2 linked regions of the Homo sapiens genome follow. Each later gene encodes a partner of the first gene's protein in a complex. Each region holds a gene or a part of one and is shown on either strand. Other genes may lie near its edges.

Region 1 (3,918 bases):
TTTATTGTCTGTCTACTTTCAAAGACATTAGTCAGAATGACTTTTCCGACTCTGGGCAAGCTTTCTGCTTTAGACTTGTAGTATAAATAAGGAGCTCTTTTTTGGGCTCTGTGGGCACAACAATATGCGCCTCTGCCTTGAAAAGCCCATGTTCTCTTAACTGTGTATCTAGAATACATGTTTCCTAAGAGGGAGGTTCCTCAGTTCTGTGAGATGAACGTGTACTAAATATCAATGTCTTCCACTCTATATCCTGTTCAATGGCTCCAGTCCGGCTTTCTGATAGAAAACAAAAAATATCACCCCCTTGGAGAGTTGACTTTGTTCCATGCAGTTCCCACCTTTATGGTGCTATGAACTCCAGATGTCAGCTGTAGTTTTTCTCCATTTTTTGACAGTGTGAAGAATGTAAGTCGAACCTTATCTCCTTCCTTACATTTCATTGTGTCCTCGTTTCTAACCCCCAGTACTTCCATTTTCCCAGTGTTGTCACTTAGGTCAAATAATATGTTTTTCTTCTTTTCTGTTACCTATAAAAGAAAATCAACACCCAGCCTCTGATAATCGGATTAATGAATGCCGCATCAGTCACACATCAGACATGCCAGAAGAAGGCTCTAAAAAGAAATCAGTTGATTCTTGAACAACACAGATTTTACCTGTGCAGGTCCATTTATATGGGAATTTTCCTCTGTCTCTGCCACCCCAAGATGGCAAGACCAACCCTCCTCTTCCTCCTCAGTCTACTTAACATCAAGACAATGAGGATGAAGAACTTTATGATGATCTACTTCCACTTAATGAATAGTTAGTATATTTTCTTTTTTATAATTTTATTAATAACATTTTTCTCTAGCTTACTTTTTAAGAATATAGTATATAATATGTATAACACAAAAATATGTGTTAAGTGACTGCTTATGTTGTCCGTAAGTCTTCTGATCAAGAGTAGGCTATTAAGCAGTTAAGTTTTTGGGGAGTCAAAAATTATATGCAGATTATCAACTGCTCAGGGTCAGAAGCCCTAATCCCTACATTGTTCAAGGGACAACTTGAAAAAATGTTTCTGCTTTGAAACTAGCAGGTATATATCTAATAGATGTTAGCAAGTTCACACAGAGGAGGCAGACGTGTCTTACTTAGAACATGTTGTCTCCTATGCCTATCTTTCCAGTCCTAAATTCCCTTCCTTTAGGAGGAGGCCAGGGTGGCCCATAGAAGCAACAACTGCTGGATAGAGAAGATGGAGCTTCTCCAGGGCCAGCAGCCAGATTAGTCAAGGGAAAAAAGAAGACCCTGGGTTGGAAGAGAGCTATTTATTCTATTTGTTTATTTTTTGAAATGGAGTTTCGCTCTTTCACCCAGGCTGGAGTGCGATGGCGCAATCTTGGCTCACTGCAACCTCCAACGCCCTGGGTTCAAGCGATTCTCTTGCCTCAGCCTCCCGAGTAGCTGGGATTATAGGTGTCCGCCAATACACCCGGCTAATTTTTGTATTTTTACTAGAGACAGGTTTTGCCATGTTGGCCAGGATGATCTGGAACTCCTCAACTCAGGTGATCCATGCGCCTTGGCCTCCCAAAGTGCTAGGATTACAGGCATGAGCTGCCGCGCCCAGCCTGAAGAGAGCTATTTAAAACAAGTCCAGGAGAGACATGAGGTAATGATGCAAGACCCAGCCAAGAGTCTAGTAAGTAATCAAAGACAAGAAACAATTCACAATCAAGTCTAGATCCAAAGGGAACAGGAGGTTGGTCAGTTATTTAGGAGATTGATCGTATTTTAGGTTTAATTTTATGGACTAAATCAGTATATATGAGTGGATAGCTGGCCAGATTGAAAGCTGAAAACTGGGATAAAGAACATGACTTTCCTATCCAAGGTCATTTTACACTTGAGTTTTCCAGGAGGACTGGAGAGTCTTCCTATCAATTCCTTCTGAAACTAACCCAGGGCAGCAGAGGTTATTCTGAGGCTCTGAATGCAGGGGCAGCAGGTTCTCTCTCTATGGTTCTTTAGGTCCTGCCCTAGACCAGAAAAAGTCATCCCACAAGGCTAGTTCCCTGAGGCTCAGAATCATAATAAATACTTTATTATTTCTCACTTCTAATAAGTATCCTGGAGGAGCGCCTCTGCCCCGCGGCCCTGTCTGGGAAGTGAGGAGCGCCTCTGCCCGGCCGCCGTGCAACCTTCCAAGTGTGAAGTGACAGCCTTGTGTGTGATCTTTTCTGTCTTCCCCCAGTTTGCATTTTTGACATTAAAGTTTACTTTTTAATTAAAAAAAAAGTCTCCTCAGGCTAACTCTTTCTTCTGTTTTCTTCATTTAATCACAGTTCTTTAATCCTGCCTTGCGTATTGGTTTTTCAGGTCATTAATCTGGTTTATTACTCAACTACACTTACTTTGCATTCACAACAATAGTCACTTAAAATAAAGATAATCACAACTATAGTCACTTAAAATAAAGATAATATGTACAAAGTACAAAAATAATGCAGAAATAAAAATTATGTGAATGAACTAATTCCTTTTTCAGAGGCTACTGGGGTAAGTTGAAATAGGATCGTGACATTTTTGACAATAAAAACAATTTTTGAGTTTTTGTATGAATTTTGGCATGTTTACTCTGCAGCTCTTTAGAACTTTGTATTTTTTTATTTTGTCTATATAGAAAGACATTAAAACCATTTCCAAAGTTTCTTTAAGATCAGATGGGAAATACGTTATTCTTACTAATCAATATGAAATTAGATATGAAAACTTACCTTCTGGACTACAAACAAACCATTCACAATTGTTCCAAGGGGCTGAGTTTGAAGCGTGTTGATCTTCGGGGTTTCACCAGCTTTTCTGATAATGTTCAGCGGGACATTAACCTTTTGGTCAGATTCAGCATCTAACACACGTGAGGCGCTATTTACCTCTAAGAAACCACTGTGCCGATAATATCTTGCTATTATAATTATTCTCTTTGGAATGAATTTATCTTTCAGCAGTGTATTAAAAACTTTTACAAAGAAGAATTCCTTTTCTGTAGCCACTGTAGCATGAAACATCTCCTGCTTGCCTTCTTGGGTCTCAAACGTGAAGGGCTTCTTTGCTTTCAGTACCATAACTGGCAAACAGCGCTTCTGAAACCCTTCTCTGATAGATTCCTGCTGGGCCACCATCTGTTTCTGTTCAGGCTGAAGACAAGAGAAGAAAGATATCAGCTGTGAGTCAAAAAGGTACTATTGAAAGGACCTTACTTCACCTACAGTGCTAAACCTCAGAAAGCCAGCAGAAGATAGGTGGAATCAAGGGAAGAGATACAGAGGGGATACGAAGAGAGTTGAGGCCTAGAACGATCCAGATAGAACAGAGAGTGCAGAAGGAAGATTTCGACTCCTGTATTCAGATAAGACGGTGTAACACGTTTTGGAGGTAGGATCCCTGAAACCAAATCCTTGCTTTGCCATGTACTATATATAAAGACTTCATCAGATTTCTGAAATACTGCTAAGCCTCGGGGTAAATCTGACAAATCTGATTCCATCTTCTATCAATTCCATTCGGGCATGTGTCCTTGTTTCTCTATCCAATACTGTCCTAAATGTTCATTTTACTCTGGTATAAAAGTGAGGGAGCTCAGTGACCAGCACAGGGCTCCCCAAATTCCTAGGGAGCATTGTACATAACAAAATGCAGATTACATTTAATGTGAGTTAAGGGGGAGACCTAGTTCAGAGATCTTATGAGTGAGTTAAAGGAGAAATTTAAAAGGAGAATTAATACTACATTTATGGATTTACCCTTAAATAATGAATTATGCACTAAGGTTTATATTTAAAAAGTACATCTTATTATTTGAAATTATAAAAAAAGAAATAATTTAAATACCTAAAAAATAGATTTGGTTAAATAAAATAGGTATAGTCA
Region 2 (3,918 bases), on another chromosome or scaffold:
GTGGCACACGCCTGTAATTCTAGCCACTCAGGAAGCTGAGGCAGGAGGATTGCTTGAGCCAGGGAGTTCCAGGCTGCAGTGAGCTGAGGATGTGCCACTGCACTCCGGCCTGGGCAACAGAGCAAGACCCTGTCTCTTAAACATTTTGGGGGGAAAAAAAAAGAAAGAAAGAATGTCCGATTGAAAAAGGCAATCAGGTGTTATCAGTGGCCAAAGAATGGAGAAGGGGAGCTCACCTCTGCAGGCGTCTGCTTGCCAGGGATGGGAGGCAGGGCGATTTTAGAGTCCAGGGAGGGGAAGGGAGATAGGTAAGCAGGCCCAGGGCAGGGTTCCATATGTGCAGGCGCTGTCCCCAGCATGCTTCTTCCTACATCGCATGGACACAAAACCCTGGCCATCTTCTTTTAGGGGAGGGACCTTTAGCCTTATAACAATGTGTAAATGATCTTAAGGTAACTGGAAGTCACCTCTTCCAGTTTGCACTGGTTTTGCTCTGATCTTAACTTCCTCTGGTTTTTGGCAAGGGATCAGGAGGCTCCAGGCCATCTGGATTTTTTTAAGCAGCTGTCCCTATAGGTAAAGAGACTAAAAAAAAACTGTAAAAGAAAAATGCCACCAGTTTAGAGGGTACCGAGGCTATCCAGGTGACAATTCCATGCTCGTGGTGGGGGCAGCATTCAGAAACACACTTTCCTTTTTTTTTTTTTTTTTTTTTTTTGAGACAGAGTCTCAGTCTGTCTCCCATGCTGGAGTGCAGTAGTGTGAGCACAGTTTACTGCAGCCTCAACCTCCTAGGCTCAAGCGATCCTCCCACCTCAGCCTTCCAAGTAGCTGAGACTATAGGTGCTCACCACCACACCTGGTTAATTTTTTTTTTTTTTTTTGTATTTTTTGTAGTTACGAGGACTGTCTATGTTGCCCAGGCTGGTTTTGAACTCTTGGGCTCAAGCGATCCCCCGCCTTAGCCTCTAAAAGTGCTAGGATTTCAGGTGTGAGTCACTACACCCAGCCTATGGAACACACTTTCCAATGCATTGTTGGCTGGAGAGGAGAAATCACAGCACTCAAGGAGGAGAAATAGAATTGGGGGTCCAGGCCGGGTGCGGTGGCTCATACCTGTAATCCCAGCACTTTGGGAGGCCAATGGGGGCGGATCACCTGAGGTGAGGAGTTCGAGACCAGCCTGCCAACATGGTGAAACGCCATCTCTACTAAAAATACTAAATTTGCTGGGCGTGGTGGCGGGTGTCCATAATCCCAGCTACTCAGAAGGCTTCGAGGCAGGAGAATTGCTTGAACCGAGGAGGCAGAGGTTGCAGTGAGCCAAGATCATGCCACTGCACTCTAGCCTGGGCGACAAGAGCAAAACTCTGTCTCAAAAAAAAAAAAAAAAAAGAATTGGGAGTCCAGGGACCCCTGAGACCTGGGAGGGGAAAGGATGTGGTATGCTGCATGAGTCTTCAAATCCAGAAGTCCCTGGGTCTTCCAGTGAGAAAGGACCCTGGGATCTGGAAAACCTAGCATCCTTAGGAATAGTGACCTGAAAAGTACTGAAGTATTTCCCCCCTAATTTTCTTTTATCCCTACTGTATTTTTTTTAATTTTTTTTTTTTTTTAGATATGGGGTCTTGCTATGTTGCCCAGGTTGGTCTCGAACTCCTGATCTCAAACAATCCTCCCATCTTTGCCTCCGAAACTGCTGGGATTACAGGTGTGCACCACTGCACCAGGTCCCCACTGTATTTATATCATTGGGATTCCTGGGTGTCTTCTAGGGCCGCTTCGTTAATCTGATGCAGGCTTAGACCCTGAAAAATGCATATATGCACAGCTTCACAAATGTCACATCAAATTTCAGGTAGTTCTTGGACACTCTGAAGACCATCTTTAGAATCCAAGGGGTTTATGGACACCAGGTAGAAAATCTGGGGAAGACTGGTTAAAAATACTCCCTCTCACAATAACCTCACAGCAATGCATCATCATGGGGTTGAGATTCTACCATTTGCCTTTCTCTCAGCAGAAAGAAAAGCCTATTGGCTAAAGTCCTAACTATCTACTGCTGAGGTAGTCATTAAAATTATGTTTGGTTGTGAATAATAGAAACACCCAAATAACAGTAACCTCAACAGAAAAGAAGTTTGTGCCTCCTTCACATAAATGATACACAGGCGGTCCCAGGCAGATCCGTGGGCCAGGACCCTGGGGTCCTGCTGTTGCTCTGTCCCACCAAGTTTGTCCTCAAGCTTCTGCTCTCAGAAGGTGACGTCCTCATGCCAGGCAGCAAGATGGAGGAACAGAGGGGAATAGTATCCCTCGGGAAAGCTCTAGAAGTTTCTAGAAGCTGCTTGTGACACCTCCATTTACATCCCTTTGGTCATATTATTGTCAAATAGCCACACCTAACTGCAAAGGAGGCTGAGAAATGCAGGGCATTTGGGGGGCAATGGGAGGCAGGGAAACAGGGAAACGTGGACAATTAATTCTATCACGAGAGAAGGAGGGAGAATAATTTCTGGTGACTACTAGCAGTCTCATTTACAGATGTGCTGTGAATTTCTGGGACACTGTGAGGTGGGAGGAGGTAGCAGGGGCTAAAGGATTGAGTGTGTTTCTATTTCTTTTTTTTTTTTTTTTTTTTTTTGAGATGGAGTCTCTCTTGGTCACCCAGACTGGAGTGCAGTGGCGCAACTTCAGCTCACTGCAAACTCCGCCTCCCGGGTTCAAGCAATTCTCCTGCCTCAGCCTCCCGAGTAGCTGGGATTACAGGTGCCCACCACCACGTCCGGCTAATTTTTGTATTTTTAGTAGAGACAGGGTTTCACCATCTTGGCCAGGCTGGTCTTGAACTCCTGACCTCATGACCCACCCGCCTCGGCCTCCCAAAGTGCTGGGATTACAGGCGTGAGCCACTGCGCTCGGCCTTGTGTTTCTATTTCTTCTTGTATCTCGTGGCATGTCTGCTTATGAAGTTGCAATTAGAGTCTTGGAGTAGAGCTATTCATAACTGTTAGGTCTTCATGATGAGTTCCAGTCTTTAGCCCTATAATGCCCCCCTTCTTTGCTTTTTCTTTTAAGATGGCATCTTACTCTGTTGCCCAGGCTGGAGTGCAGTGGTGCAGCATCAACCTCCTAGGTTCAAGCAATCCTCCTGTCTCAGCCTCCCAAGTAGCTGGGATTAGAGGTGTGCACCACCACACCTGGCTAATTTTTTAATTTTTTGTAGAGGTGGGCTCTTGCCATGTTGCCCAGGCTGGTCTCAAACTCCTGAGCTTAAGCAGTCCTCCCACCTTGGCCTCCCAAAGCACTGGGATTATAGGCATGAGCCACCACCCAGCCCCTTCTTTGCTTTCATTTAATGGTTATTGAACTCATATGTGAGCAGTGGTCTATTTATTCCTTCATTCAATACTCATTTTCCAAATGCTTGCATTTGCCAGGTACTCTGCTAGGGGCTGGGATCCAGCTAGGAGCGAGGTACACAAGTCACCATCCCCTGGAAGCCTCCACTCACGTTATGGGCAGCCAGGGATGGGTTCAAGTGGCAAAGGAACACTGGTCAGAATGTCTCTTTCCTTGGCATCACCTGCTAGATCTATGTCTGTGCAGGAGGAACAGCACAAGGCCATGGGTCTTTCTTTAGGATAAATGCCCAAGAATTCCAAGGCTCAGGAATGTCTGAGGTCTGGCCCTTAGCTCTCAGGCCCAGTGGCCTGTTTGCTTCCTCACTGGATGGAAGTCGGGGGAGGACAAGCTAGGAAGTGGGCAGAGTCTAACTGAGAACTCGCACATCTCAGGCAAGGGCTGTGTCCGCTGTGCTTTGTGATACCTCTGTGTAAGCAACTTGGGTTTGCCATTCAGGGGGTTTTTCCACTGCATGTCCCCAGGAAGGCCACCAGACACGGCTGCGAGTCCCCG

The links.
Region 2: AIM2 (region 1) and MEFV share a complex: the UniProt entries of both Homo sapiens proteins name them as parts of the AIM2 PANoptosome complex.

Annotation. Positions count from the first base shown.
Region 1 is NC_000001.11:159,063,145-159,067,062, forward strand, and holds part of AIM2 (interferon-inducible protein AIM2), read right to left. Parts: intron 3,186-3,918; coding exon 2,766-3,185; intron 531-2,765; coding exon 342-530; intron 1-341. UniProt on the Homo sapiens protein: Sensor component of the AIM2 inflammasome, which mediates inflammasome activation in response to the presence of double-stranded DNA (dsDNA) in the cytosol, leading to subsequent pyroptosis.
Region 2 is NC_000016.10:3,249,750-3,253,667, reverse strand, and holds part of MEFV (pyrin), read left to right. Parts: intron 1-3,887; coding exon 3,888-3,918. UniProt on the Homo sapiens protein: Involved in the regulation of innate immunity and the inflammatory response in response to IFNG/IFN-gamma.